Linked DNA regions of Homo sapiens. The protein of the gene in region 1 interacts with the protein of each later gene in a pairwise test. Each region holds a gene or a part of one and is shown in the gene's direction. Other genes may lie near its edges.

Region 1 (3,518 bases):
GTTTAACAGGCCTCAAGTGTCAAAGAGGTTCACAATCTTTTAACCTTTCTTCCTGCTGCACCCCTCCTACCATGTTTTGAAAATTTTATTTTTGCTTTCTCTCTCTCTTTTTTTTATTAATTGAAGATATGTCAAACAGTAGCCAATTATGATGTCACACTGATTTGATATGATAATAGTCCAAAACAAAGATAAATTGCTTAATGGATTGTGTAGTTTGAACCACTTTCATTGAGTGTAAAGAAGGTATGATATCCATAAGGCATTTAAAAATATTGGAAGTGGCCAGGTGCAGTGGCTCACGCCTGTAATCCCAGCACTTTGGGAGGCCAAGGTGAGTGGATCACGAGGTCAGGAGATTGAAAACATCCTGGCCAACATGGTGAAACCCTGCTCTACTAAAAATACAAAAATTATCCGGGCATGGTGGCACGCACCTTTAGTCTCAGCTACTCGGGAGGTTGAGTCAGGAGAGTTGCTTGAACCCAGGAGGCGGAGGTTGCAGTTAGCCAAGATCACACCACTGTACTCCAGCCTGGTGACAGAGCCAGGCTCTGTCTCAAAAAAAAAAAATGTTGGAAGTAGCTCATGAGCCTCCATTGCCACTTTTGGAGCCTTGAATCCAAGGTTGGGACTACGGCTGTGGAATATTATGTGTCCTAGGCACTTGCTAAGTGCGTTCTGCAGGAAAACAGCTTCACCGTTGCCCAAGAACTCATCAGGTTCTCAGGCTCCAGCCTGATCTACTAAATCAGCATCTGCAGTTTAACAAGATCCCCAGGTGATTGATAGTCACCTGAATTTTGGAGAAGCACTGTTGTGGTATCACAGCTAGAAACTCATGATGGCGTAAGAGGAATAGGAGACAGTGAGTTGAAACAGGAACTTTGGGCCAAGATTTGTAATAGCAAATCTTGTGAATACCATTTCCTGTCCTTCACAGTACCTGCAATGACAGTACATTTTTTCTGGCTTTTGCCACCTTGCCACCTTCTGCCTTGGATCTTTAGAACACCACAGGATCCAATGCTAGTCTTCTAGGATGGGGGTCCATAAATAAAATCCTTGGTCTTTCCTAAGAGATGGATACTGGTGTCAGGCAGATGTAGATTAAAATGGCATTCTTATTACAGATTAAAGCCATTTGGAGAATGTGCTGAGGGCCAAATGGGCTTGTGAATATTATTTTGAAATAAACTTAATACCCCAAAACTTCAAGCTTCCCCAACAAGGAGCCCTACTAAACTCATCCCATGGCTGAGAGTAGGAAGGGCATTCATGTAGGCTGGCAGGACCCAAAGAGAGAAGAGAGGTAGGGTCTAAGCCACACACGCTCAGTTTCTTCTTTGAAACTCACCAGGGAGGAGTGAGTAGGTGGCAAGGAGGAGGCCAGGAGAATTTCTCTGGCGGGGACCCTCCTCATGAAGACACGGGGAGTGGGAACAAGGGTTCTTCCCACGATCTACTGCAAAGGACTTTTATACCAGGCTCAGCTGATTTCTAGATGTCACCTAGTTTCTGAGGCAAGTGTGTCTTACGTAAAGGAGGCAGGCCACATCCTGACCTTCAGAGTCCTGAGGCAGAGAATTGTGGAGAGCTGTTTCCTCTTGCAGAAAGCTGTATCTCTATGCGGCTCATGATGTGACCTTCATACCGCTCTTAATGACCCTGGGGATTTTTGACCACAAATGGCCACCGTTTGCTGTTGACCTGACCATGGAACTTTACCAGCACCTGGAATCTAAGGAGTGGTTTGTGCAGCTCTATTACCACGGGAAGGTAATACCCCTGAGGTGGGGTTGGGTGGTGGTGAGGCACCCTCCTGCAAAACCCACCTACCTGAGTTAGCACCAAGTCTCCCTCCTCAGGCCCAGTGGAGTCTCTCTTGGCACAGTCAGCTCTCTGAATCCTATAGGGCAACTCCTGGCTATGGCCCAGGGGTCAGGCAGAACTTGACAGATGGTGGCAGGATGGGGCTTGAGCCTTATCCCAGTTCTGTTACAGACTCCTAGGAACAGGGTCCCCCTCCTCTTCTCCTGAGCGTCCCTGTCAGGATGTCGCCTCCTGGCTGTGAGACCTGTTTTGGAGATTGTTGGTGGTATCTTTGGGAGGTGATGTGTGCTGCTGTTAGCACCCGTGGTGTTGGCTGCTTCATCAGGGCTGGGGTCCAGGGCAGAGGCCAGAGCACGCCCCAGGGATGAGCCTGTTGGTTCTCCCAGCTCGGGGATGTAACTCGACTCTTTCTTCCCAGTCAATTCAACACTTTTTGAGTGACTTTTACAAGCAGAGCATAGTGCTTTTATTCTGGAAGCTCACCGGGTAGTGGGGCCTTCCTGTCTGTAATATGTATGCACATGTATACCACATGGATCAGAGCCTCTCAGATCTCTGGGCTTAGCTGGAAATAGCAGAAGGACAGGTTCCTCGGCGGACCTGCTGAGTTATGTTTCTTCTGCAGGAGCAGGTGCCGAGAGGTTGCCCTGATGGGCTCTGCCCGCTGGACATGTTCTTGAATGCCATGTCAGTTTATACCTTAAGCCCAGAAAAATACCACGCACTCTGCTCTCAAACTCAGGTGATGGAAGTTGGAAATGAAGAGTAACTGATTTATAAAAGCAGGATGTGTTGATTTTAAAATAAAGTGCCTTTATACAATGCCTCCTGCTTTGTGTGTTTGGGAAGAGGAGAGAGCAAGGGGTAATGTACTTTAATATAATGTAAGGATATTTCCTTTCTGTGGGTTTACTAAGATTTCTTCCTGAACGGAAAAGGGGTATAATATTGAGACCAAAAGGATATTTCTCTATTTTGTGAGTTGGTTTCTAAGGTTAGAAGCATCTTTGTGTGACACGGGCTGGGGACATCATGACCCTGTAGAATTGTGTCGGTTTTGGACTTTAGTTCTTTTCTCCTATATTAATTTCACATGTATTGAGCTACCTACTAAGTAGTGATCATTATAAAGGTGAAAACACTCTGCCCTCAAGTTGTTGCAGTCCAGTGGGAGAGGCAGCCGAGTAAATCAGTGATACAGTGCTGTATGTTTTATGCTGTAATAGGTATTTGAGGGGCTATTTGGGTATAGAGAAGAAACTTCCTGCTCACATGGCAGGGGATGTGGGGAACAGTCAAGGAAGGCTTCTGAAAAAGTCCTGGCCTGATCTGAGTAGAGAAAGGTGGGTAGGAGTTAACCAGGAAAGCAAGGATGAAAGCGTGTTGCGTTTAGATAAAGGATAGGCTTCAAGGTCAGGGAACGTTGCTGGGTGGTGAGATGGAACCCTGATGTGGAGGCTCAGCAGGAAGAAGCAGGAAGGACACTGGGCCCCTGGTGGTTTTAGTTCCAGAAACAAATGTGGGCCCCAGGGCTCTGCAATGGTAAGGCTGGAACTACTCAACATAAGAGCTCCACCTTTAACTGTGCCCCCTAAGAGTACCTGATGATCCCCCTATCTCCTTGTCAATGTTGCTGTTCTTCTCCAGAATCTATTTCAACCCTTCTCTGATTTCAAACCACCAGT
Region 2 (4,024 bases), on another chromosome or scaffold:
ACTCCCGTGCGCACACACACGCACACGCATGTACACATGCAGACACATGTACACACCCACGCACGCACATATCCACGCACCTACAGTGACGTACACACACGCCAACACGCATGCACACACCCATAGTGACATGCATGCCCACACACGTGTGCGCACACGCACATGCAGTGCCGTGTCCACACACGTGCACATACACACGTGCACACTGGCATGCATGTCCACACACATGCACGTATGCAAATGCACCTATGCACACACTCATATGCAGACGCACACACGTAGATGTGTACATGCACTCATATAGACACATGCACATGTACACACATGCAAGGATGCACACTCATATGCATGCTGACGTGCACACCCATGCATATGCAGGTACACATACACATGCAGATATGTGTGCACACACGCATATATGCACACTCATGAATGCCAGTATACACATACACACATACATGCACACGCAAGGTACACATACATGCACATGTGCACACACATACACATGTGCACACTGACATGCACACCACGTGTACACACGTGTACAGTCACATGTGCATCATTGACATACATGCAAATAAACATAGACACACACACACAGCGCAGTCCTCTCTGGCCTTCCTGGCAGGCCTGGGTTATTACCCAGCCCAAAGGCAGCATCTCGCAGGGAATTTCGCCCAAAACAGAAAAGCCAGCACGGCTCAGGACCTGATGCTCACATGGAAATTGCGGGCGGTGGCTGCCCAGGGCAGCAGGGGCCCAGGGTCTGGGTGGACACTCCTGACTGTGGATGCTAAATAGGACCCCCTGGCCTTCCAAGGAAAACAGGAGGTGCGGCCAGCCCGTTTGTTCTCTGCGTGCACGTATTTTTAGCACTGAGTAATTTAGGTATTTTTAAGCCCAACCAAGGGCGGTTTTCCCTGAGTTGGATGTTTTGTGGCTGCTTTGAAGCTCTCTGGAATCAGAGCCCTCTGAGCGGCCACACGTGGGCTCTGCCTCCAGAGCAGACAGATTGGGCCTTCTCTGCCCCCAAAAAGTGGGGGTGGGACGTCTGCTGGAAACCAAGGAGGCTGGGCGGTGTCAAAGGGATTTTTTGTTTAATTGCCCCTTTTATTGAGATCGCCGTGGAGTCACAGCCAGTGCTAACAAAGAATGTAGAGGAATTCTGTGTGTCATTCCCCGGCCGTCCCTGGTGGTAACATTTGGTAAAGCTATGGGCAGGATCGCAGCCAGACAGTCACACACCCACCAGCCTCACTCAGGTTCCACAGTATTCAGTATTGTGCCCGCTGGTGTGTGAGTGTGTGAGGCTCTCTGTGAGTTTATCACTCATGTAGGCTTGTGGATTCATCACCGTAGTTGAGGCACTAACAGGGATCATTCGTGTTGCCCTTTTATTATTTATTCAGAGATGGGGTCTCACTAAATTGCCCAGTCTGGCCTCAACCTCCCAGGCTCAAGTGATCCTCCCACCTCAGCCTCCCAAGTAGCTGGGACCACAGGAGTGCGCTACCCATGCCCAGCTAATTTTCTAATTTTTTGTAGAGAGGGGGTCTTGCTATGTTGCCTAGGCTGGCCTCAAACTCCTGGACTCAAGTGATCCTCGCATCTCAGCCTCCCAAAGTGCTGGTATTACAGGCAAGAGCCACCATGCCTGGCTGTGTTGCCCTTTTATACAGAGACCTATCTCCCTCCCAGCCCCTGCCCCTCCCTGATCCCTGGCAGCCGCTAATCTGTTCTCCATTTCTAAAATTTCGTCCTTGGGCCGGGCATGGTGGCTCATGCCTGTAATCCCAGCACTTTGGGAGGTCGAGACAGGCAGATCACTTGAGGCCAGGAGTTTGAGACCAGCCTGGCCAACATGGTAAAACCATGTCTCTACCAAAAATACAAAGATTAGCCAGGCATGGTGGCACATGCACCTGTAATCCCAGCTACTCAGGAGGCAGAAGTGAGAGTATCGCTGGAGCTGGAGAAGCGGAGCTTGCAGTGAGCTGAGATCATGCCACTGCACTCCAGCCTGGGCAACAGAGCGAGACTCTGTCTAAAAAAAGTCCTCTTAAACACATTACACAAACAGAAGCATGCTACACATCCCAGGCCCTGGAGATTCCCCTGCGGTGTGGTATGCATGGATGGTCCTTTCCTTCTTTTTTTTTTTTTTTTTTTTTTTTTTTTGAGACAGAGTCTCACTCTGTCCCCCAGGCTGGAGTGCAGTGGCGTGATCTCTGCTCACTGCAAGCTCCGCCTTCCGGGTTCACCCCATTCTCCTGCCTCAGCCTCCCGAGTAGCTGGGACTACAGGCACCCGCCACCACGCCCGGGAGACGGGGTTTCACCGTGTTAGCCAGGATGGTCTTGATCTCCTGACCTTGTGACCCGCCCGCCTCGGCCTCCCAAAGTGCTGGGATTACAGGCGTGAGCCACCGCGCCCGGCCAGTCCTTTCCTTCTTATCACTAAGTAGGCATTTTTTGAGAACTCTGGAATCTGCCTTGACTTCTCTGCGGCTGCCTGGCTCTGCAAAACAGACAGCGATGCCATGAGTTATGACAGAGACAGGGTGCGGCTTAATTAACTGCTCACAGACGCCCGGCTGGGACTGCGGCTGCCCAGGACTCTTGAACCTGGCCCCTGCCCCTGCCACCCCCATCAGCACCAACCCCCTCACTGGGTCCTACGAAGCAGGTTTCTCTAGGCTGGACACTACTGACACGTGGGGCTGGATCGTTCCCTGGAGCGGGGCCGTCCTGGGCACTGCAGGGTGCTGAGCAGCATCCGTGGCCTCCACCCACTCCCTGCCAGGAGCACCCCCAAGTCATGACAGCCACAAATGTCCCAGACATCACCCAGTGCTCCATGGAGGGCAGAGTCATCCCCAGATGAGATCTGGGGATTCCACGGACTCCCAAGAGACTCTGCGTCCTGTGATCGTCTGCCCTGTTGAGGTCCTGGGTTTTTCCAGGAGAATTCAAGAAGCAACAGCATGGGCTCCTGACTGGTTCAATATGAAGGACACGGAGGAGAGGCCGGGCTCACACCTGTCATCCCAGCACTTTGAGAGGCCGAGGAGGGTGGATCACCTGAGGTCAGGAGTTCAAGACCAGCCTGGCCAACATGGTGAAACGCTGTCTGTACTAAAAATACAAAAATTAGCCGGGTGTGGTGGCACGTGCCTGTAATCCCAGCTACTCGGGAGGCTGAGGCAGGAGAATCGCTTGAACCCGGGAGGCAGAGGTTGCAGTGAGCCGAGATCACACCACTGCACTCCAGCCTGGGCAACAGAGCAAGACTCTGTCTCAAAAAAAAAAAAAAAAAAACACGGAGGGGGACAGTCACCAGGGGTTCTGCTGTGATCCCTGCCCTGACCCAGGGTCTCCCCTGGGTACTATGGATATCGCGTTCGGATCCTTCCCTGGCGTGGGGCCGTCCGGGGCACTGCAGGGAGCTGAGCAATGTCCCTGGCCTCCACCCAACCCACTCCATGCCAGGAGCACCCCCCACAGCCACAGATGTCCCCAGATATCACCCAGTGTCCCCTGGAGGGCAAGAACCCCTGCCATGGACTGAGGCAGGCCACCCGGGAGCCTGCGTGGGTCCTCCCTTCTCCAGAGGGCCTGGCCTATTGCCTTTGCCCTTTCTTTATTTTTTCTTTATTTTTTTTTTTGAGACGGAGTCTTGCTCTGTCGTCCAGGCTGGAGTGCAGGGGCACCATCTCGGCTCACTGCAAGCTCCACCTCCCGGGTTCACGTCATTCTCCTGCCTCAGCCTCCAGAGTAGCTGGGACTATAGGCACCCACCACCATGCCTGGCTAATTTTTGTATTTTTTTTTTTTTTTTTAGTAACGATGAGGTTTCACCGTGTTAGCCAGGATGGTCTCGATCTCCTGACCTCATGATCCACCTGCCTCAGCCTCCCAAAGTGCTGGGATTACAGGCGTGAGCCACCACGCCCAGCCTGCCTTCGCCCTTTCATTCTCTCGTTCTGCAAACTCCCACAGAGGATTGTGACGGCTGACCGCGTGCC

Evidence for each region.
Region 2: the proteins of ACP6 (region 1) and GNG7 interact in a two-hybrid assay, tested with the Homo sapiens proteins (one large-scale study listed by BioGRID and IntAct).

Annotation. Positions count from the first base shown.
Region 1 is NC_000001.11:147,646,507-147,650,024, reverse strand, and holds part of ACP6 (lysophosphatidic acid phosphatase type 6), read left to right. Parts: intron 1-1,613; coding exon 1,614-1,779; coding exon of another isoform or gene 1,780-1,848; exon of another isoform or gene 1,849-2,458; coding exon 2,459-2,602; 3' UTR 2,603-3,518. UniProt on the Homo sapiens protein: Hydrolyzes lysophosphatidic acid (LPA) containing a medium length fatty acid chain to the corresponding monoacylglycerol.
Region 2 is NC_000019.10:2,520,906-2,524,929, reverse strand, and holds part of GNG7 (guanine nucleotide-binding protein G(I)/G(S)/G(O) subunit gamma-7), read left to right. Parts: intron 1-4,024. UniProt on the Homo sapiens protein: Guanine nucleotide-binding proteins (G proteins) are involved as a modulator or transducer in various transmembrane signaling systems.